Linked DNA regions of Homo sapiens: all the other regions are linked to region 1. Evidence: fine-mapped expression QTL. A gene starts in region 1. Each other region holds a variant in brackets. All regions are shown on one strand. Distances are from middle to middle. Region 1 holds the start of PDPR (pyruvate dehydrogenase phosphatase regulatory subunit). Region 2 overlaps PDPR (pyruvate dehydrogenase phosphatase regulatory subunit). Region 3 overlaps PDPR (pyruvate dehydrogenase phosphatase regulatory subunit).

Evidence for each region. PIP is the estimated chance that this variant, and not a neighbour inherited with it, causes the effect.
Region 2: its variant is the best candidate, but not a certain one, in a credible set for the expression of PDPR in whole blood (Lepik 2017, PIP 0.76).
Region 3: its variant is the best candidate, but not a certain one, in a credible set for the expression of PDPR in whole blood (INTERVAL, PIP 0.59).

The regions. Positions count from the first base shown.
Region 1 is chr16:70,112,831-70,115,588 of GRCh38, reverse strand. PDPR (pyruvate dehydrogenase phosphatase regulatory subunit) reads right to left here and starts at 1,257. Exons shown (of 19, transcript NM_017990.5): 1 at 1,149-1,257; 2 at 659-768. RefSeq lists enhancers at 1-723, 1,244-1,293.
Region 2 is chr16:70,139,716-70,142,473 of GRCh38, reverse strand. It overlaps PDPR (pyruvate dehydrogenase phosphatase regulatory subunit), which reads right to left. Exons shown (of 19, transcript NM_017990.5): 12 at 85-240. Among named protein-coding and RNA genes, the nearest start is that of PDPR, 27 kb to the right of the region's middle. The variant A/C (reference allele first, on the strand shown) is at 1,260.
Region 3 is chr16:70,162,042-70,164,799 of GRCh38, reverse strand. PDPR (pyruvate dehydrogenase phosphatase regulatory subunit) reads right to left here. Exons shown (of 19, transcript NM_017990.5): 19 at 2,263-2,758. The region is part of intron 1 of LOC400541 (a long non-coding RNA gene); the gene reads left to right. Among named protein-coding and RNA genes, the nearest start is that of CLEC18C, 10 kb to the left of the region's middle. The variant A/GA (reference allele first, on the strand shown) is at 1,209.

The DNA.
Region 1 (2,758 bases):
ACATTTCCCACACTTGCCTCAGCAAAAGAACCACCTGGGACACTTGTTTAAAAATGACAGATTCCCACGGTCCACCTCGGCAGATTCTGATCCTGCCACTCCAGGGAGCTGTATTTTTCAACAAGTACACCAGGTGATCACGCAAGTTTAAGAAATTAACACAAGTTGGCCGAGCGCAGTGGCTCACGCCTGTAATCCCAGCACTTTGGGAGGCTGAGGCGGGAGAATCACGAGGTCAGGAGTTCGAGACCAGCCTGGCCAACATAGTGAAACCCCGTCTCTACTAAAAACACAAAAATTAGCCGGGCGTGGTGGCGCACACCTGTATTCCCAGCTACTTGGGAGGCTGAGGCAGGAGAATTGCTTGAACCCAGGAGGCAGAGGTTGCAGTGAGCCGAGATCGCGCCACTGCACTCCCGCCTGGGCGACAGAGTGAAACTCTGTCTCGGAAAAAAGAAAAAAAAAGAAAAAAGAAATTAACACAAGTCCCTGCCACTGGAAAAGCTTATCCGTCAGGCTGGCTCCTCCTCCACCACCAGACCCCATCCCGGTACATCACGTTTACATGCATGCGGAAAATGGGCTTGGAGATTCTTGATTCAAATCCGAGGTATCACACATCGGCCCCCAAAGGTCAAACATTAAGAAGGAAGCTTACTGCCCTGTCCCAGATTTTTCTAGGTGACTTCTTCCTCCGGACTCTGCAGCAGTCTTTAGTTCTAAAAGCACAAGCGGACCGCACGTCTCAACGCGGGAAAACAGTTCCATCTGCAGGGATGGAGGACCGGGCTAGACAAGCTGGAGTTGGCTCTGCGCCGCAGGGGTGTGCAAGCCCGAGACGGGGGAGCCCGAGGTCACCCCGGCCGCCCTGGCATCGGGGCTGAAGTGCAGGCTCCTGGAGGAGCGGTGCGCACGCCCAGGGGTAGCCGAGAACACAAGCCAAGGCACGAGCGGACAACCTTACGGGGACGAGTACTGGCGCCCGGACGCGACTTCGCGAGAGGCCAGGCGGAACCCACTGGAAGCGTGAGCTAGCGGGGACCACCCCCGGGCGAAACCAAAGGAGAAAGAGGGGAACCCAGGGGTCCCGGGGCGCTTAGGCCCGCGCGGACGGGGAGGCCAGAGTTGCCCCGAAGCTATCTCCTTACCTCACCGGTCCCCACGGGCTCCGCGCTCAGCTACAGCCCGGCGGGAGCAATGCGGCAGCCACAACAGTTGCCTGGGGTCGCCGCGGGCCGGAAAGCGGGGTTCGGGGATGGGAAGGGGGCGGGGCGAAGCGAGCAAAAAGTTCCGGGGAAGCCGAGACCGCGACCTTCCGCGCTTTACGGCCCCCGGGCAAGGGTACTGCCGGCGCGTGACCTCAGCAGCGCACGAGCGCGCCGTGACGCCTTCGCGGAGCCCCGCCCCTGCCACGTGGGCTTGTTTGGGTCTCGCGAGGCACCGCCCCCGCGGCCTCTTTGCCACCCTCAGAGGCGAGCTGTGGAAGCCTTGACTCTTAGGGCCGTTTTAGAACCGGGGCCTCGGACCGGCGGGGTTTCTGCACGTGGAACCGGAACATCTGAGATGATCGCAGGCCCTGTGGAGTGTGGGGAGCGCGGGAGTTCTTTCTTCCCTCGAGGCCCGTGCCAGGGCTTACTCCAAAGCCAGTGGGTCCCCAGTCCTAAGCCAAGCAGTCCCGGGGGAAAACGCTTCTCATCGCCGTGGGAGCGCGGATCTTGGAAGTGGCTCTGGGCTTTCTTGGGCGAGGCTCTCACAGAGTAGATCGGAAATCCATTCTGCTGGCCCGCCCCACCTCGGAGGACGGACTAACGGACCTGAGTTCCCGGCCCTATCTTACTCTTCTCAGCTTCTCAGCTTGGCTCAGCTCAGAGGAAGAGGAATCACTGAAGTCTCAGAGAAGTCTCCACTCATCCCTTCCTCACTGTCACATCAGCCTTTTCTTTCCTTCTAGAACTCATCACTGACTCAAGGATATAAGTTTGATGACTGTCTTTTCCACTGGTGTGACACGATCTCTGTCGACAGAACCTTAGTCTTATGCATAGCTTTATTCTCAGCACCCAGAACAGTGCCTGGCACCTCTTCCACTGAATATTATATGCATAAGGGTCTCATGCTGCAGCCACCATTGCATCTTGGGCCACACTATCCAGTTCCCGTTTGTTGGATTCAATACTGTCTCACCACACAAACCAATCTTGTGTTTTATTAATTTAAAAAAAATTTTTTTTTTGTAGAGATAGGCTCACTATGTTGCCTAGGCTGGGCCTGAACTCCTGGCCTCAAGTGATCCTTCCATCTCAGCCTCCCAAAGTCCTGGGATTACAGGCGTGAGCCACTGTGCCTGCCCCAATCTTGTGTTTTATTGCTGGCCACCTGTAGCCAGGCACTGTGCAGGATGATGGGATCCAGCAATGTACAAGAAAGAGGCGGTTTCTGCTCTTAGGGAGTGGCAGTCAAGTTCCAGGGACCCCTCTGTCACAAGGCCAGGCCACAGCCTACATAGTTTATACCCCATTTACTGGCCAGTCAAATCACACAAAGACAGCCCAGATGAGGTCTGCCAGACAGTGGACTGAAACTATGCCATAGGCTCCTGTGCTAGATAAATACTTCCATATTTTAGCTAGGATTGAATGCTTGGGGACACCTACCTGTCTAAAAAAAGAGAAAACGGCTGACCAATTTGAGACATTCTCGGGGAAGGCTTTCCTGATGCCCAGATGTGGCGATTTCATGAAAAATATCACAGGTTTTC
Region 2 (2,758 bases), 27 kb before region 1:
AGCCTATGCATTTGAAAATATGTTTTATTAATTCCCAGGACAAAAAAAAAAAAAAGAAGCAAAAATGAGAATGTGACTTCTTACCCTTGTCGGGGGGAACAAAGTACTTTGGCCTCTCAAATCCATGTTTCTCCATCCACCTGGCTCCCTGTGCATCCAGCCGGTCGTAGAGAGGAGAGGTGCGTAACTGCCTACCGGTCTGGAAGTCCCAGCGGGGAACCTTCAGATCATACATCAAAGCTAGAAAAGACACGAGTAGTCTATCAAAGCCCAAGACACAGATTCTAGACCTGAGTAGCCCATGTCCACTAGACTCTGGAGTTGTTTCTATTCAAAAGAGCTTTCCAGGCTAACGTAGTTTTTTTTTTTTTTTAAGACGGAGTTTTGCTCTTGTTGTCCAGGCTGGAGTGCAGTGGCACAATCTCGGCTTACTGCAACCTCTGCCTCCTGGGTTTAAGCGATTCTCCTGCCTCAGCCTCCCGAGTAGCTGGGATTACAGGCACGTGTCACCGTGCCACACTAATTTTTGTATTTTTAGTAGAGACAGGGTTTCTCCATGTTGGTCAGGCTGGTCTCAAACTCCTGACCTCAGGTGATCTGCCCGCCCCAGCCTCCCGAAGTGCTGGGATTACAGGCGTGAGCCACTCTGCCCGGCCCAATTTCCAGGCTAATGTAGTCTAATTTTCAAAATTACCCAGTGTATCAGGCATGCTCCAGAAGGAAAAGACAATCCTGCCAAGCTGCTATCGTCCCTCCCTGGAGCTACGTGTCACGGCATGACTCGGCCTGTATTCACATTCAGCATTCCACATTAGTAGGTAGAAATGATGGCAGAAAGGTCAGGGTCCTAAACCTTACCAAGCTTCATAGCAGAGAAGAAGGTTACTAAGTGGGACACAGGTGGTAACAAAATGTGAAAAAATGGCATTCGATTCTTCATTGTGCCTGTGTTAGGATCTCAGACCTGTTACAGACATTTCCTCCCTGATAATTAACTCACTTCTGAAGTGAAAGGGTACATATTGCAGCTTGATTAGGTGGCTCTGAAATCTGAGAAGTTATATTGTATTGTACCAATGACATTATTCACACAACAAAGCTAGGGTCAGAATTCATTTCTCTTAGGCCGGGTGTGGTGGCTCACGTCTGTAAACCCAGCACTGAGAGGTCGAGGTGGGCGGATCACGAGGTCAGGAGTTCAAGATCAGCCTGACCAATGTGGTGAAACCCTGTCTCTACTAAAAATACATAAATTAGCC[A/C]GGCATGGTGGCAGGCGCCTGTAATCCCAGCTACTCGGGAGGCTGAGGCAGGAGAATTGTTTGAACCCAGGAGGCAGAGGTTGCAGTGAGCCGAAATCACGCCACGGCACTCCAGCCTGGGCAATAGAGCAAGACTGTCTCGGAAAAAAAAAAAATTCATTTCCCTTAAGGTCTAATCTTCAACAGCAATAAGTAAAAAAAGCCAGAAGAGTGTGATCTGTGGTCCCTGATCTCACACCATCCCAAACAAAAGGCACATCAAGGCTTGGGGAGGTTGGGAGACAGGAGAAGGAAGCCAGGTGGGGTTCTCTGCATGGTGACAATCTCTCCATCTCCTAGTACTTTCGGTTCTATCATCCCCTCCCCCATTTTCTTTTCTATTTTTTTTTTATTTTTTGTTGAGATGGAATCCCTCTCTATCACCCAGGCTAGAGTGCAGTGGTGAGATCTTGGCTCACTGCAACCTCCATCTCCCGGGTTCAAGTGATTGTCCTGCCTCAGCCTGCCAAGTAGCTGGGATCACAGGCACGTACCACCACATCTGGCTAAATTTTTGTATTTTTAGTAGAGACAGGGTTTCGCCATGTTGGTCAGGCCAGACCTCCTGACCTCAAGTGATCCGCCTGCCTCAGCCTCCCAACATGCTGGGATTACAGGCTTGAGCCACTGCGCCTGGCGCCTTCCCCATTTTCTATGTGCCTGCCACTTCTATTTCATGAGAATTGGCTACCAAAAGTGTCATATCACCAAGCAGAAGCTCAAGCTCAATTATGATTTGTACAGGTTCCAAAGTAACTATGGGTAGGGAAATTTAGGCTTATAATAGTTCAACTTTAAAACAAAAAACTTTGATTTTGTATTTTATTTTTTTGAGACAGGGTCTCAGTCCCACTGCCCAGGCTGGAGTACACAGTGGCACCATCATGGCTCACTGCAGCCTCAACTTCCCCAGCTCAGGTGATTCGCCTACCTCAGCCTCCCAAGTAGCTGGGACTTCAGGTGTGTGCCACTAGGCATGGCTAATTTTTTGGTTTTGGTTTTAGTAGAGACAGGGTTTCGCTACGTTGCCTAGGCTGGTCTCAAACTCCTGACCTCAAGTGACCTACCTCCCTCAACGTCCCAAAGTGCTGGGATTACAGGCATGAGCCACCACACCCAGCCAAGTTCAACATTTTAACCAAAATATTTGCTAAAATTAAAGAACCTTAGCAGTTAAACATATTGCTGTTAGGTCCTTCATCTCCATGGATGTACATCCTCTTCCCAGGCCAAAAGTGAGCACTCAGGCATTAAAGGCCATCCAGAGTCCTCACCAACAATGTTGTTCAACTACCAAACTAACAGTTTACTTGCAACCAAGAATGGTGGTCAGAGCCAACACAGAAACTTAGTCCTGAGCATAAGTATGCCCAAAATATTTAGATACCATTTGGCAAAGTCTGAGAACAGCTCCTCAGTACAGGAAAATGAAATTACAACTTGAACCCACGTGGTTTGGT
Region 3 (2,758 bases), 49 kb before region 1:
CACTGCAACCTCCACCTCCTGAGTTCAAGCGATTGTCCTGCCTCAGCCTCCCGCGAAGCTGGGATTATAGGCATGCGCTACCACGCCTAATTTTGTATTTTTAGTAGAGACAAGGTTTCTCCATGTTGGTCAGGCTGGTCTCGAATTCCCAACCTCAGGTGATCCGCCCGCCTCGGCATTCCAAAGTGCTGGGATTACAGGTGTGAGCCACCGCACCTGGCCTAAAATCCTTAAATCTTAAAAGACATTTTAAAGATTTTGCCCTCCACTTTTTGCCCATTCATTTAATCATCTGTTAAACACCAAACACCATGTGAGGTGTTGGAGTTTGGGAGAATTCGAGTCTTTCTCCGAGGGACTTACAGAAGGAGCAGGGCAGATAACCAAATAAAGACACATCAGAAACGGGTGTGTGAGGACCCCAAAGGGGCCATTCTCTTGGGGAAGGAAAGGCTCCACTGTGGGATGATGGTGGTCTTGGGCAGAGCTTTTGAAAGACAGGAGGGGCCAGGCACTGTGGCTCACACCTGTAATCCCAGCACTTTGGGAGGCTGAGGTGGGTTGATCACCTGAGGTCAGGAGTTCGAGACCAGCCTGACCAATGACCACCATAGTGAAACCTCGTCTCTACTAAAAATACAAAATTAGCCAGGCATGGTGGCGCATGCCTGTTATCCCAGCTACTCAGGAGGCTGAGGCAGAATTGCTTGAACCTGGGAGGCGGAGGTTGTGGTGAGCCGAGATCTCGCCACTGCACTCCAGCAGCCTAAGCAAGAAGAACAAAACTCCGTCTCAATCAATCAATCAAATGAAAGACAGGAGGTCTCTGTCAGGACAACTTGGGGGAGTGGGGGTCCATGTGATCCTCAATTTGCGACTTTCCACAAGCACAGGGGAGGGCTGCCAGGAGGCATTTTAGTGAGCAAATATGGGAGTGGGAGACCTCTCAGTGTGACTGGAAAGCAGGATTCGAGGTGAGATCCAGCTGTGGATGGCGAGCACGCACTCGGCTGCAGGACCCACATCACACGCAGCGCAGGCCGGAGCCCTGGGGCAGCGTGGCCTGCCACACCCTGGAGACCCTGGCTGGCCAGGCTAAGGACTGAGAGCTTTGTCTCACGACAAAGGGGAGTCCCTTGAGGGTTTCAAGGCAGTGAGTAAATTGACCTCCCCTGTTTTACAAAGACAACCCTGCAGAGGGAGGGGGG[A/GA]TGACATGAGAAGCAGGAAAATCAGTAAGAGATTGTTCTCGAAGTCAGGGCTGACAACCCTCTCTGCCACAGCAGCAGTGGTGGGGACAGTGAGGTCCGAACAGAGGAGAGGCACTGAGGAGACAGCCCTGTGAGGCTGGGTAATGAGCGGGAGGTGTAGGGAGAGGCGAGTGGGGAGACCAGGTGAGTCCCAGGTTTCTGGCGTGGTTGACTATTCCTGGAACTGGAATAGAAGGGGCTGATTTAGAAGACAAGATGAAGAGATTGTTGTAAACATGTTAACCTATGAGATTCTCAAAAGTACAAATACTTAAAAAAAAAAAAACTACTCAAAAATTACTTTGGGCCAGGCACAGTGGCTCACGCCTGTAATCCCAGCACTTTGGGAGGCCAAGGTGGGTGGATCACTTGAGGTTGGGGGTTTGAGACCAGCCTGGCCAACCTGGCGAAACCCCGTCTCTACGAAAATACAAAAATTAGCTGGGCATGGTGGCGCGTGCCTGTAATCCCAGCTACTCTGGAGGCTAAGGCAGGAAATCACTTGAACCTGGGAGTGGAGGTTGCAGTAAGCCAAGATCACACCACTGTACTCCAGCCTGGGCAAAAGAGCAAGACTCTGCCTCAAAAAAAAAAATTAGTGAACAGGTCAAGTCCAGGGACCAACTTGTGGATGGAAGCTGGTGTAGAAAAAGAGCACTGGTTGTTTCTCTCAGGGTTGTTTCCACAGGGTGAGAACACGACCCCCCTTGCTTTCCACACAAACCTGAGTGCACACGTGCCCGTGTGGAACATCAGGTGGCAGGTTCCTCCTGAGGTCAGCTGTAGGCAGAAGGCCGGTCGGAATTTCAGGAGGCGGGAAGCTTTTACCCCCAGCCACTCCAGCGCTGCAGGGAGGGTAAGATAAACACCTACATCTTCTCTACCCCCGTCCCCAAATCCTCCCTCACACTGGTACACACAGGGAGGTACACACTCTCCTCTGCACGCTGTTTATGCTTTGTGGTGGCAAACACATTTAAGTCACTACAGATGAAGAACATTTCACAAGCAGCCGTGCAAGAGTAGTTAAAATGTGTTTATTCATTTACAAACCCAGTAACATGAGAAGAAACTCAGTGGAAACCTTGCTTGGTGGAGACAGTGCACAGTGTTAGTGCCACATTCACAGGGGCAGAAATGCTCGGTCACCCTGTGCACCCAAAGTCACCCAGGATCTCTAGAAAAGATCCCACTTACTGAAGTGCCTCGGATGTCTTCAGGGCCAGATTGTAACTACACAGGAACAGGGAAGGGCTAAGCTGAACTGCAAATTGACAAACACAAACGATGAGTCACAGGACTCTACAGTAGTTACAATGGCATTTTTATATGTCCCAAGTGTTGACTGGAGAGTAAAGTGTTAACTGAGCTGCTAGAACACCCTTCACTGAAAGAGCTTTCTACCCCACGCCCATTGTTCCGAAGAAGGAGAGGCTATGTGGGGCGGATGGGAACCCACACACCGAGATGAACTTTTCTCTTTCTTCCAATCTGCACCCACCATCTGACAT